2 separate regions of the Homo sapiens genome follow, and region 2 is linked to region 1. The links come from fine-mapping of genetic effects on gene expression. Tissue or cell type: whole blood. Region 1 holds a variant in brackets; the other region holds the start of a gene. All regions are shown on one strand. Distances are from middle to middle.

What was found. PIP is the estimated chance that this variant, and not a neighbour inherited with it, causes the effect.
Region 2: it holds the start of VEGFB, and the variant in region 1 is fine-mapped to the expression of VEGFB in whole blood (INTERVAL, PIP above 0.99).

Annotation. Positions count from the first base shown.
Region 1 is chr11:64,373,399-64,381,495 of GRCh38, reverse strand. No RefSeq gene overlaps it. Among named protein-coding and RNA genes, the nearest start is that of MIR1237, 8.8 kb to the right of the region's middle. RefSeq lists enhancers at 1,684-2,301, 7,408-7,961, 7,962-8,097. The variant G/TTG (reference allele first, on the strand shown) is at 4,558.
Region 2 is chr11:64,231,335-64,239,429 of GRCh38, reverse strand. VEGFB (vascular endothelial growth factor B) reads right to left here and starts at 4,846. Exons shown (of 7, transcript NM_003377.5): 1 at 4,537-4,846; 2 at 3,930-3,972; 3 at 3,421-3,617; 4 at 3,103-3,176; 5 at 2,208-2,243; 6 at 1,775-2,010; 7 at 166-1,074. The coding sequence starts at 4,596. The coding sequence ends at 1,797. It overlaps DNAJC4 (DnaJ heat shock protein family (Hsp40) member C4), which reads right to left. Exons shown (of 6, transcript NM_005528.4): 2 at 7,466-7,559; 3 at 6,816-7,000; 4 at 6,565-6,726; 5 at 5,450-5,536; 6 at 5,149-5,357. The coding sequence ends at 5,246. LOC124902687 (a long non-coding RNA gene) reads left to right here and starts at 8,060. Exons shown (of 2, transcript XR_007062713.1): 1 at 8,060-8,095. RefSeq lists silencers at 4,219-4,588, 4,809-5,298.

The DNA of each region.
Region 1 (8,097 bases):
CTTGTGGGCTTTAAGGACTGGAGTGTGGACGTGTCAGAAGTTCCTGTGTGCACCCATGATGGGGGCCCTCCTGGCCCCTACTTGCTGCTCTGGTCCCTCAGAGGTCTCTGCCGCTGTGACAGGACCCTGAGCAGGGTAGGAAGTTCACCAGGAAAATTGGAAGCTACTTTTTCTCTGCCAGTTCAGCCAAGGTCTTGATGTCAGAAACACTGCTGAGTGGTTAAAAACAAGTGGTGGGAGGCGGTGGCTTACACCTGCAATCCCAGCACTTTGGGAGGCCGAAGCGGGCAGATCACTTGAGGTCAGGAGTTTGAGACCAGCCTGGCCAACATAGTGAAAGCTCGTCTCTACTAAAAATACAAAAATTAGCTGGGTGTGGTGGTGCACACTTGTAATTCCAGCTACTTGAGAGGCTGAGGCAGGAGGATCACTTGAACCCAGGAGGCGGAGGTTACAGTGAGCTGAGATTGTGCCACTGCACTCCAGCCTAGGCAACAGAGTAAGACTCCATCTCAAAAAAAAAAAAAAAAGTGATTTTTCTTGCACACCTGAGTCAGTGCCCTGAGCTTCTTACACTTTACACAACAGTTATTAGGGATACCCTCCCCCAGTGACATCTGAGGGCAGCTGCGGAGGGCAGAGTCTTCCCCACAGCAGAGCCGGAGCACCCCTTCTGGGAAGGCTCAGCTTTGGGGAGGAAGGGCTTCCCTTTCCAAGCAGGCCAGGGACTCCCCACACACATCCCAGGCTGCGTCTGCCCTGGAGATGAAGTCACAAGCCAGCCTCAGGGTTACCTCCGGGCTCCAGTCCCCCCAGCCTAGTCCTGCGGTGCTTCTCCCCACAGCCCTTCTTTCCCCACTCACAGGCAAAGCAAGATCCCTGGAGATTCCAGTTCCCGCCTGGCCCTGGTTCTGTCACCGCTCCCCTGACAGCCCCTACATGCCCACAGCGTCAACCAGCACATCACTTCACGGCCAGCGGCCGCCCCGTGCCTGCCCGCGGCTCCCCTCTGCAGCCTCCAGGCCGGCCCCACCCAGTGCGGAGAGTCAGGCCTTCCTGGCCGGGTCTGAATCCCGCATCCCCCGGCTACAATACAGTCCCAGTAGGCAACAGGGTCCCCGTGGAGGGGAATCAACTGAAGAACGAAGTGTTTACTTCAGAGCTTCTACCACGGCGCTGTGTGCTTCCCTCAGAGAGCGACACACTCACACACACTCTCACACTCACGCTCACACACTCACACCCACATACACACACACGCTCACACCCGCACACGTTCACACGCTCACACCCACACACACGTTCAAACCCACACACTCACACGCGTTCACACCCACACACGTCCACACGCTCACACCCACACTCACACGCTCACACCCACGCGTTGACATGCTCACACACACACCCACACACACACGCTCACACCCACACACATGCTCACACATGTGCACTCACACTCAAACTGACACAGCCACACTGACACACACTAACACACATACATACACTCAACACATTGACACATTTACACACATACATACACTGACACACACTGACACATTCTTACACACATTCACACACTCATGCACACACACTGTCACATGCTTACAATCACAACATACTCAGGCTTTGTTCACACTCACACTTATATGTCCACACTGTCACACATGTTCACACATACACTCAAATCACACAAAACACACAGGCTTTGTTCACATACATTCATACACATTCACACTTACACATGCAAACACAATCCTCACAGCACACACCTGCATACACACCCACACACTTGTGCTTACACACACCCACACTCATCCACATTCTCACACTCACGTGCTCACATACACACTCCCATACACCCACACACTCGTGCACTCATGAGTTCGCACTCACATGCTCCCTAGCATCCTCATATTCACTCACACGTCTTCACACGCTCACATAGACACACAGGTGCTCACACACAATCTCACACTGACACACTTATTTACTCACATACGCACACATTCACATACACAAGAGTGTGCTCCCACGCCCATCCTGGCCGCTCCCAGGCAGCTACTGACACACGCCAGGTCGGTGGCGATTCACACTCCGTGCTGAGAGGTATTCAGAGGGTGGGGCGCCATCTGGTCCTCACTTTTCGTGGGGGCGGGGGTAGTGTTCAGAACACTTGGCTCTGGCTGATGCCGGAAGGGAAAGGCCGGTGGCCCAGGGAAGGGGGACCGGGAGCGAGGGAAGAGCATCGCTCTCTCTTTCCTGGACATGGGTCCCTTCCTGAGCAAGCCTGAACTGGCCTCAATTTTCCTGGGTTCTCTTAATAATTTTTTGGTAAACTGCCTTTTGTGGGGGAATCCCAGCGCGCCACGCACTTTGCCAAGCGTTTGGCCGTGCACCCGTCGGCAATTCCAGTGGCTGTTGTTCCATCCGCACTTCACTCTAGAGGCCACGGAGACTCAAGCCCAAGTGGTTTTGGTCACGACTGCACAGCTGGGAGAAGAGCCCTGGTATGAAGCCACTCGGCGGCTCAGTTCATGGTTCTGCAAAGCTTCCCCGACGCCCAGCTCTCCTGCCCTCAAGCATGCCCACTCCCTGGGGACCCTTCAGCACATCCCTGGAATCACTCTCTCCCTCCCCCATGCAGACTGTGTCCCCAGCCCATTCCCGCAGAGACAAAGGTCAGATCCACCACTTCTGTCCCTCGTCCCCTACTCATGGTCCACAACACCCTCCACCACCATCACGGGCCCAGCGGGCGACTGCAGGGCAGGAAAGGGAGAGCCTCCGCTCCTGCATCAGCCTCCAGGAGCTCCGCCAAGAAAAATGAGGGCAAGGACACACTCCGCTGGCGAGGCCTGCTATTTCATTTTAAAGGAGACAGTGCTTCCTGGATCTTGCTCGTGCTGCTGCAAGTCATATAAAATGATAGGATCTTTCTGAAGGGCAGTGTGATCACATATATCAAAGACCTTTAAAACGTGCATGCAGCGGCACATCCTTTAGCCTATTAACTTCACTTCTAGGAAACGTATCCTAAGGAAATATTTGGACAGGTGAGCAAAGACGTAGGTACAAGGATGTTCACTGCAGCACTGTTTAAAATAGCAAGGAGCTGTAGCCAAAAATAGAAACAATCTAAATAAATCATTGCATACCCATATAATGAAGCACCCTACAGCTACAAAGAATAATTGTAAAATATAGTCATTGACATAGAAAGATATTCACAATCTATTTTTGACTTTAGACAGGCTATAATAACCTATTTACATTTTGATGCCATTTTAACTAAAAATCTGTATCAATAAAGAAAATTCTAGGCCGGGCATGGTGGCTCACACCTGTAATCCCAAAACTTTGGGAGTCCGAGGTGGGAGGCTTGCTTGAGCCCAGGAGTTCGAGACCAGCCTGGACAACATAGTGAGACTCCATCTCTACAAAAAACAACAACAAAATCAAAAAATGAGGTGTGAGAATTGCTTCAGCCCAGGAGGTTGAAGCTGCAATGAACTATGATCATGTCACTGCACTCCCGCCTGGGTGACAGAGTGAGACCCTGCCTCAAAAAGAAAAAAAACAAAGAAAAACTTAGAAGTGAATGCATCAGACCAGGCGAAGTGGCTCATGCCTGTAAGTGGCACTTTGGGAGGCCAACACGGGTGGATCACCTGAGGTCAGGAGTTCGAGACCAGCCTGGCCAACGTGGTAAAACCCCGTCTCTACTAATAATACAAAAATTAGCCTGGTGGGATGTTGCGCACCTGTAATCCCAGCTACCTGGGAGGCTGAGACAGGAGAATCACTCGAACTTAGGAGTGGGAGGTTGCAGTGAGCTGAGATACCGCCACTGTACTCCAGCCTGGGTGTCACAGCAAGAATCTGTCTCAAAAAAAAAAAAAAAAAAAAAGAATTGAATGCATCAAAATATTAACTAACACAGTTTATCTATGGAGAGTAATGCCACGAGTGATTTTTTGAAATCTCCTTTGCATTTACTGATTTTTTCTTTTTTTTTTTTTTTGAGACGGAGTCTCGCTCTGTTGCCCAGGTTAGAGTGCAGTGGCGCAATCTCTGCTCACTGCAAGCTCCGCCTCCCAGGTTCACGCCATTCTCCTGCCTCAACCTCCTGAGTAGCTGGGACTACAGGAGCCCGCCACCACACCCAGCTAATTTTTTGTATTTTTAGTAGAGACAGGGTTTCACCGTGTTTGCCAGGATGATCTCGATCTCCTGACCTCTTGATCCGCCCACCTCGGCCTCCCAAAGTGCTGGGATTACAGGCGTGAGCCATCGTGCCCAGCCTCTTACTGATTTTTTCTAAAATTAACATTTAATTAATATGAATTTTTACTTATACATGCATATTATTATATAGTTGTTCGACTACACATAAATATTCCTGGAAAACTACACAAGAACACATTAGCTTCCTCTGGCAACAACAGAAGGTACGTGGCAGAGGGTCAGCATGTGGAAGAACATTTTTCACTATGTACTTTTATGGATCCTTTGAATTTTGAATCATATGAATTATATATATATATATTTTTTTTTTTT[G/TTG]AGACAAGCTCTCATCTCACTATGGTGTCCAGGTTAGTCTGGAACTCCTGAGCTCAAGGGATTCTCCCTCCTTGGCCTCCCACAGTGCTGGGATTATAGGAGAGAGCCACCCCACTCGGCCAAATTTATCGTCTTTCACAAATACAAATAGAAACTAAATTTAAGTTTTAAAACAAAATAAAAGATTTTTTTTTTTTTGAGATGGAATCTCGCTCTGTCGCCCAGGCTGGAGTGCAGTGGCGCCATCTCAGCTCACTGCAACCTCCACCTCCCGGGTTCAAGCGACTCCCCTCCCTCAGCCTCCCAGGTAGCTGGGATTACAGGCCTGCGCCACCACACCCGGCTAATTTTTATATTTTTAGTAGAGACGGGGTTTTGCCATGGCTGGGTTGGTCTCGAACTCCTGACCTCAAGTGATCTACCCGCCTCGGCCTCCCCAAGTGATGGAATTACAGGGATGAGCCACCGCACCTGGCCAAAAATAAAAGATTTAAGGGGTATCTTTGACATTTCACAAAGCCCATTTTTGTGCAGCAGTGACCGTGGAAGGAGACTGTTTATATCAGAGTCACAAACTCAAATGCCTAGAGGGCCAGAGGGATGAATGCAGGACAGAGCTGGTGTAACCACAGGGAGTGGTGGGGACTGCGGCAACCTGGAAAGCAGAGGCCCTGTCTGTGGCGGCAGCGTGATTCTGCTCCAGCTGATTAGACCATGCAGGAAGACTGCCCCAGGGCCAGCCCTTCCAGCTCATCAGCAAAAGCCTCACATCTAGGATTCCATATGCTTTTCCTCATTTTACAGCGTGTGCTTAGGCCAGGTGCGGTGGCTAATGCGTGCAGTCCCAACACTTTGGGAAGCAGATCACTTGAGCTCAGGAGTTCAAGACCTGCCTGGGCAACTTGGCGAAACCCCATCTCTACAAAAATACAAAAATTAGCCAGGCATGGTGGCGCATGCCTGTAATCCCAGCTACTTGGGTGGCTGAGGTGGGAGGATCACTTGGGCCCAGAAGGTTGAGGCTGTAGTGAGCCGAGATTGCACCACTACACTCAAGGGTAGGCGACAGAATAAAACACTGTCTCAAAAAAAAAAAAAAAAAGTGCTGGCCCCAAAAATGAGTTTCTATAGGCCAGGCACAGGCCAGTTTGCAATCTCTACGTTCATATGGAATATTTTTGTTTACACTCCCAAAGTACCTTAGGGAGAAGTAACTTGCTTAGAGTCAAACAGTGACTCTAGAACTTTGAGATGGAGTCTCGCCCTGTCGCCCAGGCTGGAGTGCAGTGGCACCATCTCAGCTCACCACAACCTCCGCCTGCCGGGTTCAAGCGATTCTCTTGCCTCAGCCTCCCTAGGAGCTGGGATTACATGCATGGGATTACAAAATGCCTGGCTATTTTTTGTATTTTTAGTAGAGACAGGGTTTCACCATGTTGGCCAGGCTGGTCTCGAACTCCTGACCTCAGATGATCCGCCCACCTCGGTTTCCTAAAGTGCTGGGATTACAGGCGCGAGCTGCTGTGCCCGGCCAGAACTTTAGTTCTAACAGTAGTTATTAATAGTTAACAGCAGGCCAGGAGCGGTGTCTCACGCCTGTAATCCCACCACTTTGGGAAGCCAAGGCCGGAGGATGACCTGAGGTCAGGAGTTCGAGACCAGCCTGACCAACATGGAGAAACCCCGTCTCTACTAAAAATACAAAATTAGCCGGGCATGGAGACGCATGCCTGTAATCCCAGCTACTCGAGAGGCTGAGGCAGGAGAATTGATTCAACCCAGGAGGCAGAGGTTGCGGTGAGCTAAGATCACACCACTACACTCCAGCCTGGGCAACCAGAGCAAAACTCCGTCTCCAAAAAAAAAAAAAAAAAGTTAACAGCGACTTGGAGGGAGCCAGAGGTTTACAGGGCTGTCGGACCCTCTTGGGGCGCCAACATTTTATCAGAGCAGGAAGCCCAAGCCTGTTCACTGAGGACATTTGAAGAGTGGAAACAGAAGCCCAGTGTAGGAGGGTGACCTCTCCTGGCTCCCCTGGAAGAGCCAGCCTCCATGTTAGGTAAGGCTAGTCAGCAGCCAAAGTCAAGGTATAGAAGCAGGGGGCCAGACCTAAGACCTTGAGCATTGGCCTCTGGCCTCCCTACTTCCCTGCCTGTGCCCACCGTGTCCCCTTCCACTCTGCCGCTTTACACCCTGGCCAGCCTGCAGCTCAATCACATCTATCTCCCACCCGCAGGCTCCTTGACCACACAGAGAAGAGGCAGGATTCAAACCAAGGCTGGCTCATTCCTCTAAGTCCCTGCTCTTTCCACCCAGCATCCTCCCTTCTCTGGGTTACTGCATCCTCTGAACCGTTTCTTCACCCCTGAAATGAGGCTAAGTACTCCGGAGGCTGAAGCAGAAGGATCGCTTGAGCCCAAGAGTTTGAGGCTGCAGTGAGCTACGATGGCACCACTGCACTCCAGCCTGGGCAACAGAGCAAGACCCCATCTCTAAAAGCTAAATTAGGCCAGGTGCAGCGGCTCACACCTGTAATCCCAGCACTTTGGGAGGCCGAGGCGGGCGGATCACCTGAGGTCAGGAGTTCGAGACCAGCCTGCCCAACATGGTGAAACCTCTTCTCTACTAAAAATACAAAATTAGCCGGGTGTGGTGGCAGGCGCCTGTAATCCCAGCTACTCGGGAGGCTGAGGCAGGAGAATCACTGGAACCCAGGAGGCAGAGGTTGCAGTGAGCTGAGATCGCACCCCTGCACTCCAGCCTTGGACAACAGAGCCAGACTCCGTCTCAAAAAAAAAAAAATCTCTTTTTAAAATAAAAGTTAAATTAATTAATTAATAGGAAGAAATGAGGCTAAGGATACCTCTTTCATAGGGTGGCTGTGAGTTACATGGAATGAGAGGTGAAGAAATTGAAGATGAGAGACTATTTTGCATCCACTCAATTAGAAAAGGTTTTGAAATGGTAATACTCAGTGCTTGTGAGTATCTGATGAAATGGGACCCTTTCATCTCCTTCAATGAGATTCCCGCCTAGAGTGCTCAGGAGGGTCCCTACACATTGGAAAAGGTCAGTAAATCTCAATAAATTCCTGGTGACTGAGTGACCATACTCTTAAATCTGTTAATTCTCTAGTTCCTCTTTTCGACAAATAGGGGAGGTTGGGGCTGTTAGGTGACTTGCTAAAGTCACACAGCTGGTAACACAGGAGTCAGAATTAGAGCCTCAGAATTTCTTCCCTTCTCCTGAGGGCCCCTTGTCCTGGGCCCCTTCCTGTTCTTTCAGACCACCAGGATGGGACACAGCTGGCGCCCGCATACCCTTTCCACTCCCCCGGAGCCCCACCTGCCCACAAGGACTGCCTGATTCGCCTCACCTGGGCACCTCTGGGTCCCAGCCCAGATCCCCAGGCCTCCCGGGGACAGGAGGGGAAGGTCCACATGAGATGGTCTCACAGGGTAGCCACAGGGAGAGAAACGATGGGGAGGCGGCCCAGGGTGGGGTTCAGGCAGACCCTGGGGCGGGAGCTGTCAGGACATC
Region 2 (8,095 bases), 140 kb after region 1:
ACTGTGGGTTGGGTTGAGGGGAGCCTGCCGCCCAAACCAGGCCCACCAGCCCCAGACTTGCGGTGCTTCCCTTTCAGGGAGGTGGGAGTGAAGTTAAGACAGGGCAGGTGCTGAGGCTTTAGATTCAAGCTGCAGGGAACAAAAAGCAGCAGATGCTGAAAGCGCTGCCTGGCAGGAAGAACAAGTGTTCTTTTCTATTACGTAAAGATAGTCTCAAACTTCTCTGGGGCCCGAGGACGCCAACCACAGCAATCTTCTGTTCCCTCTATGTGCACATGTGGAAACTGCTGCTCAGAGAGGCAGGGGTAGTGACAAGCAAGGTCACTCAGTAGATCTGGGTCCTACCCCAAGCTCTCTGGCCACAGAAGGCTGTCTCCTTCTAGAAAAGAACCCTGGTGAAGAGCAGGAGGGCAGGCAGTCTGTATTGACTGGGCTATCCCTGACTCCCATGCGTGGCAATAACTTGAAAGTGATGAATACATAATTCTGGCCCTGCCTGGGATCTGCTGTGGGGCCTTAGTCCTCATTTCCTCCATCTGCACAATGAGGGAGCAAGACAAGCTCTGGATTTAGTGATGCAGACATTCATGCCCAAACCAGCCAGCCTGGACAGTGACAAACAGTGACACAGGCAGGGACAGCTCCTTCCATCTCTTTTATCAGGGTTGGGGGTCACAGTTCTTGTACCAAAGCCCAAATCCCATTATGCAGAGGTTTGGGTCTTCTTAGTGAGGGGAGGAAGAGCCAGTTGTAAGATGCTTACTTGCACAGAGTGGTTAGAAACTGAGACAGTACTCCATTCTCCCCTGAGCTGGTATGTGACCCCTCTTGCTGCCTCCCAGTCTCCTCTTCCAACTCTGTCCTGTTTGATGATGGCCTCAGGGAGACAAGGGATGGCAGAAGAGCCCTCTGAGAGGCCCAGGTCCTAGAGCAGCTTCTGCCTGGGCTGAGGTCTTGGGGGCTTGGCTGTTTTTTACCAGGCTCCTCTTTGTTCCCCCACTGGGATATAGCCTCTGAGGCAAGTCACCCTGCTGAGTCTGAAAAGCCATGTGTCACCTTCGCAGCTTCCGGCACCTGAGGAGGGAGGAAGTGATCTGTTCATGCTGGCTGGAGCGCAGCCCCAGCCCTGGACTCATGTGTGCCTCGGGCCCACTAAGATCACAACCTGAGCATCCTGCCACACCACTCGGCCCTGGGCACTGGAGGCTGCAGGGCGAAGGATGAACCTTTTGCAAAGGTCATCCCCTCCTGACACTCCTCGGGAGCCCCCACTGGCCCTGCCCATATGATTTCACCCCATGGCCTCACTGCGGGACACGGATGGTGAGAAACACATCAGGTAAGGGTGGACAAGGGTTCCACTATGTCCCCTGGCCTCTTGAAGCCCGTAGGTAAGGGCAGATGTCTACCACAGGGGCTTCTGGGAAGGCCCGAACTGCAAGCTGGAAAAGCTGTGTCCTACATTTCTACTCCGGGCAGATGTCACCTCCTCCAAGAGATCTCTGACCTCTGAAAGACGAGGCCAGGTACCCCTCACCACAGCCCTTGACATCCTCTGCTGGCATTGTCCCTCCTGTATCTGACTCCTGAGTTAGAATGTTGGACTTGCTTATACAGCTCCAGGTGCCAGCAGCTGTTTGGTAAATATTTGTTCAACACATTCAACAGTTTCCCCTTCCCTGGCCCTCCTCCTACTGGCAGGCTCACCCTGGACCTGCTCCAGGACAGGGCCTTGGTGCCTTCCCAAACAAACACCACCCCACAGACGCCTCACCTGCAGGTGTCTGGGTTGAGCTCTAAGCCCCGCCCTTGGCAACGGAGGAAGCTGCGGCGTCGGCAGCGGCAGCGGCAGGTCCGGGGGTCAGGGCGCTGGTGGTGCTGGGTGCAGCGTGGGCAGAGGGGCCTGGGGCTGGAGTGGGATGGGTGATGTCAGCTGGGGAGGGTGCTCCGGGGGCAGAGTCCCAGCCCGGAACAGAACGGGGCTGGGGACGGTGGTGGGGAGTGGCAGCCCTAGGGAGGAGAAGCGACATGTCTGGGGTGGGAAGGAAGAGTCTTCCCTAGAGCTGGGGTCGGGGCAGAGAACACAGGCTTGGGGAGCAGAGGAAAAGGGAAAGTGGGGGACGGGTGGGAGGAGAAAGAGGAGCAACAGCTTCTGGACTCACTTGTACTCCCCATACCCCTACTCAGCTGGAGTCCAAAAGACTCACCTGTCTGGCTTCACAGCACTGTCCTTTTTTTTAGGTCTGAAAAGTAAGATAGACAGACACAGACAAACAAGAGGAAGATCAGGAAATCCCAGCATCCTACTCTCTCTCTCTCTCTCTCTCTCTCTCTCTCTCTCTCTTTGAGACTGTGTTTCCCTCTTCTTGCCCAGGCTGGAGTGCAGTGGCGTGGTCTCGGCTCACTGCAACCTCCGCCTCCCAGGTTCAAGCTATTCTCTTGTCTCAGCCTCCCAAGTAGCTGGGATTACAGGCACCTGCCACCATGCGCGGCTAATTTTTGTATTTTTTTTTAGTAGAGATGGGGTTTCACCATGTTGGCCAGGCTGGTCTCAAACGCCTTACCTCAGGTGATCTGCCTGCCTGGGCCTCCCAAAGTGCTGGGATTATAGGTGTGAGCCACTACCCCCGGCCCAAGCATCCTACTTTGTTGCCCCAGATCCAAGGCCTACCCTTGGCTCTACTCTTTTTTTTTTTTTTTTTTTTTTTTTTTTGTGGCAGAGTCTTGCTCTGTCGCCCAGGCTGGAATGCAGTGGCACGATCTTGGCTCACTGCAAGCTACGCCTCCCAGGTTCATGCCATTCTCCTGCCTCAGCCTCCGGAGTAGCTGGGACTACAGGTGCCCGCCACCACGCCCGGCTAATTTTTTGTATTTTTTTAGTAGAGACAGGTTTTTACCATGTTAGCCAGGATGGTCTCGATCTCCTGACCTCATGATCCGCCCGCCTCGGCCTCCCAAAGTGCTGGGATTACAGGCGTGAGCTACCACGCCCGGCCCCTTGGTTCTACTCTTAGGAACCTGGTCCCCAGTTCTGTGGACCACCATACCCAGCACCCCCCAAGCCTGGCCTCTGCGAGCTCAGAAGTTGGGCCTGGCTGGCACCTGCATTCACACTGGCTGTGTTCTTCCAGGGACATCTCCCCCAGCTGACTGCTCGGGTACCGGATCATGAGGATCTGTGCTCAGGAGAAGAACAGGGGGGACAGTGAGGGAGAGAGAGAAAGGGGATGCTCTAAGACTGAAGGGAGAAAAGCTCACCCAACAGCCGGGAGGCTGGCCACCAGCCCTCCCCCCAACCCTGTCTCCTGTGCATCAGTCTCCAGGCTGCCCCAGCCCCAGAGCCAGCCAGCATCCACCCTGCCCGCTGCCCCACCTGCCCAGTACCTGCATCCCCTGCCCGTTGCCCCACCTGCCCAGTACCTGCATCCGGACTTGGTGCTGCCCAGTGGGCACACACTCCAGGCCATCGTCAGGGCAGCAGCCACCACAGCGCTGCACAGTCACGCAGCTGGGCACCAGCTGTTTGGCCACGGTGCCCATGAGCTCCACAGTCAAGGGCACCACCACCTCCCGGGGCTGGCAGGTAGCGCGAGTATACACATCTATCCATGACACCACTGGGAGCAGACCGGTAGGGGTTAAGTCCTCACTGGTTTTCCTGCAGCTGCTCCCAGCATCTGTCCTCCCCAGTCCCCAAGTCACAGCCACCCTCCACTAGCCCTCCCCACTCTGCCCTCACAACCTGTCTTCCCCTGCCCTGTTTATCCAGATCCCAGTAACCCCACTGCCTCAATTTCCTCCTCTGTGAAATGGGTAGAATAATAGTTTGAATCTTCTAGGGGAGTTACACAAGATGATGGACACCTGGAATCAGGGCCCATGACAAACCCTCTTAGTGCTGGCTAGTGCCGAGTTTTTGTAAGTATTACCTTTCCTCTGGTGGCCAGGGGCATCAGGCTGGGAGACAGGGGCCTGTGGGAGAGAAAAGACCTGTACCCAAGGTACACTTTAGGAGGGTGTGGCCCTGTCACCGTCCCTGGGGCTTTGCCCTTGCATCAGTAGGCTTCACCACCTCTCTGACATCTTTCCAGATTGCTCTGTTCCTGCGGCCACTGCTCTAGCTTTACCTGTCCTCTCCTGGCCACCCGGGACCTGCCCTGGCCCAAAACGCAACAGGTGCTCTGGTGGCCGCGCCAAATCTCCAGGCCGCGGAGCCGAGCATGTTTGGGGGCTGCATGCAGATCAGGAGCGCGCACAGTGCCCACCGAAGCAGGTCCTGCAGGCACCGAGGGAGCCCCGCCCCCGGCGGTGCCCAGGGGACGGGGTGGGGCGGAGGAGTGGCCCCAGACTGGGGCTGGCGGGCCAGCGGGGAGGGGCACCTCCCAGGGGATGCACGCGCCGGGCCCCCGAGACGCCCGCGTCCAAGGCCGGACCCCGCAGATCCCCTCGGCCGAGGCCGCGGGTCGCCTCCTCACTTCCGCCAACCTTGAGAGAGGGCACGGCGGGCGGGCGGGCGCGCTGTCGGGCCGCACGTACCTGGGCGGGGGCCAGCTGCAGGAGTGCGGCGAGCAGCAGGCGGCGGAGCAGAGGGCTCATGGTGCCCGCCGGGGCCGCCCGCCGGGGGCGCCCGCATCGCCCTAGCCCGGCGGCGCGGGGGGCGGCGACAGCCAGAGCCCCATGGCGCGGGCCCGGGCGCGGCGGGCGGGGGCCGGGCGCGGGGGGCGACTCCTCCGCGGCCCCCTCCCGAGCCCTGGGTGCAGGCAGCGCAGCGCAGCGCAGCGGAGGCGGCCGGAGGAGCCGGGCGGGCGGGCGGCCGGTGGCGGCGGGCAGCGGCGGCGGGGACGGCGGGGGCGGCGGGGGGCTGGGCCCGGGCTGGCGGGCAGGCGGCTCATGTGACCCAGACACGCGCTCCCCACCGGCCCGTGGGGCGGGGGCGGGGCGGCGGGGTGGGGGGGCGAGGCCGTCGGCGGGGCCCGCCTCCTCCACACACCCCCTCCCGCCTCCCGCCGCGGCAGGGGAAAGGGGACGCACCGCCCAGGAGGCTGGGCTCCCCAGTCGCCGCCGCCACTACCCGGAGGGCGGGGCGCTGCCCCTTGGCGAGGCCGGGGCCGGGGGCGTCGGGCCTTAAGGAGGGAGCCGGACACGAGCTCTGCGAATCACTTTATTGCGCGCGTTTCGGGGAGCGGGCCGTCCAGGGAAGGAAGCAAAGCGGGAACGCACTGCAGGCCCCATCCAGGTGAGCCCCTCAGGGGCCGGCGCCCCGGGGCACGATCTCGGGGCCTTGGGTTGGCTCGGATGGTGGCGGCTGCCGCTGCCCTAGCCGTTGTCGCTCCTGCTGAAGGATGCCTCTGTTGGCCCTGGAGGAGAGGGCACCTGGGTGGTTGGGATAGGGATCCCGAAGTGTGGTTCCTGGACAGGGAGCAGGGAGCAGAATAGAGCAGGGACAGACCTGGCCCGTGCCCGGGCTTCGTTGTAGAAGGCTGTGATGATCCGATCCTTTTCATCCATGAAGTTAAGGTGCATCTGCTTCACCTTCCTGCAATGGGTCACAATTAACCCTGGGAATCCAATTCCTGCTGTCCCTGAAGTCCTGCCCCCTTCCACCCCACTCTAGGGGCCTCACAGCTTTTTACCCTTACACAGGGTTAGGAACCTCAGTCTAACCCTTCCTGTGATAGATAGGGAGGGCTCAGAGTGGCCCTGGCTTGTCTAGGGTCCAATGGCATCCGAAGTCCCTGGTCACTTTGAGGTGTGACAGCAGCTGTGGACATGGGGGTGCTCCTCCCAGAAGACTAGAAAGGGTATGCGTCTAACTCCATCACTGAACTAGGCAGGCTGCTAGCAGTGGGCACTGGCCTTTAGGTATCTGCTATAGAAAATCGGCTTTGTGGCCAGGCGCGGTAGCTCTCACCTGTAATCCCAGTACTTTGGGAGGCTGAGGCGGGTGGATCACCTGAGGTCAGGAGTTTGAGACCAGCCTGGCCAATATGGTGAAACCCCATCTCTACTAAAAATACAAAACAACTAGCCGGGTGTGGTGGTGGACGCCTGTAGTCCCAGCTACTCGGGAGGCTGAGACAGAAGAATTGCTTGAACCTGGGAGGCAGAGGTGGGGTTGCAGTGAGCCGAGATTGCGCCACTGCACTGCAGCCTGGGCAACAGAGTGAGACTCCATCTCAAAGAAAAAAAAAAGAAAAAAAGAGAATAAAGAGAATCAGCTCCGTGGCACGCGTGAGAGTGGCAGGGAGATGCCTACTGCCAAATGAATGAGCTGTGCTGCATTTGCTGCTTGTGCTTGATTTTGTTTGGCTCAATCCCTTCCTGGCAGCCAGCATGAAAGATTTACATTCGAAATATGAAAAACTGTAAATGACAACGTTAGCTCTTGGTGCAGCGCTGCCTTTAATAAGTAAGGAGAGGCTCCAGAGACCAACTTCAAGCAGCTCTTAGCTTGAGAGACACAAGAGTACGGGCCACGAGGTGCTGTGGAGGACTGGCTGACCACACTGGAATTCACCCACCCTCCTGCCCTCTGCCCATCACCCCGGGGAGAACAGGCATCACCTGAAGGCAATGTAGTGCAGGCCCATGCCCGCCAGCATGAGGAGGAGGCAGTACCCCAGCACTTGTTTGTTTTGTTTGTGTTGCTGCTGCCTCAACTGGGGCCCCTGTGGCCTCACGCTGTGAAACTGGGACCAGTACTGTGCGTTGGGGGGTGTCCAGGAGCTGCTGGGAGGCAGAGGAAGGGACATTGTGGAAATGAGACTACCCAAGAGACCTGGGGGTGGGGCAAGCTGAGGGCAGGATTACTGTACCTGTGTGTTTGGTGGGCAGACTTGTCATGGACTGTGGTTCGTGGAGACTTTGGGGGACTACCTGAGCGGAGCTGGTCATCATAGCTGCGGCGGCTCTGCTCACGGCTGAGCACACGGTATGCCTCGCTCAGCTCCACAAAGCGGCTGTGCAGGCTTGGGTTCCCAGGGTCCCGGTCTGGGTGCAGCTGGGGTGGGGCAGGACTCCCCTTATCTCCCTTTGCCTGTCCCTCCCCAGGACCCATGCTGATGACATCCACCCACCAGGGCTCCAGTCATACCCAGAGGCCCTGCCTGGTCAGTGACCCTCACTCAGGCCTGCCCACTCCTCAGAAGGCCAGAGAGCATGGACTCCTGCTTCCTCCTGTGTTCAAGCCCTCCCCACCTGCCAGCCCCCTGCATTCACCATATGCCCTGGTCCAGGTTTCTCAAGAGCAGGCAGGCAGGTCAAGAAAACCAAGCCCAGCCCATCAGACAGGACCCCTGGCTCCTGCCCACAGCCTTTCCCCTACCATTGAGCACCTGCCACTCCCTATGAGGGCTGAAAAAATGTGGCACCCGCCAGAGATGCTGGTCTACTCCTGGGAATTTGAAGCACACCCCCACTGGCTCAAAGTTCCTGCTCCCCCTCCCCACCTCAGGGGTACGGGTACCTCTTTGGACTTGGAGAAGAAAGCTCGTTTAACTTCCTCAGTGCTGGCACCAGGATGCACCCCCAACAGTTCATAATAAGTACTGGGTCTGGACCTGTGGACAGAGTCCCAAACCTTGCAGGGGCTGAAGGAACCCAGAAGCTAGCTCTGCCCTGCCTTCTGGGCCACACCCTTCAACTCAGCCACCAGGAGCTGACAGGGCTGAAACAGGTCCCAGGACAGATCTGTCTCCAGATCAGCACCCCCTTTGGAGTGTTTCAGGCATAGTGCAGGTCAGGATTTCTCAAAGTGGAGTCCAAAAACTTGTTGGAAAAAACTGATTCCTGGACAGGCGCGGTGGCTCACGCCTGTAATCCAGCATTTTGGGAGGCCGAGGAGGGCGGATCACCTGAGGTCGGGAGTTCAAGACCAGCCTGACTAACATGGAGAAACCCTGTCTCTCCTAAAAATACAAAATTAGCCGGGCGTGGTGGTGCATGCCCGTAATCCCAGCTACTCGGGAGGCTGAGGCAGGAGAATCGCTTGAACCCGGGAGGCGGAGGTTGTGGTGAGCCGAGATTGCTCCATTGCACTCCAGCCTGGGCAACGAGCGAAACTCCATCTCAAAAAAAAAAAAAAAAAAGGAAAAAG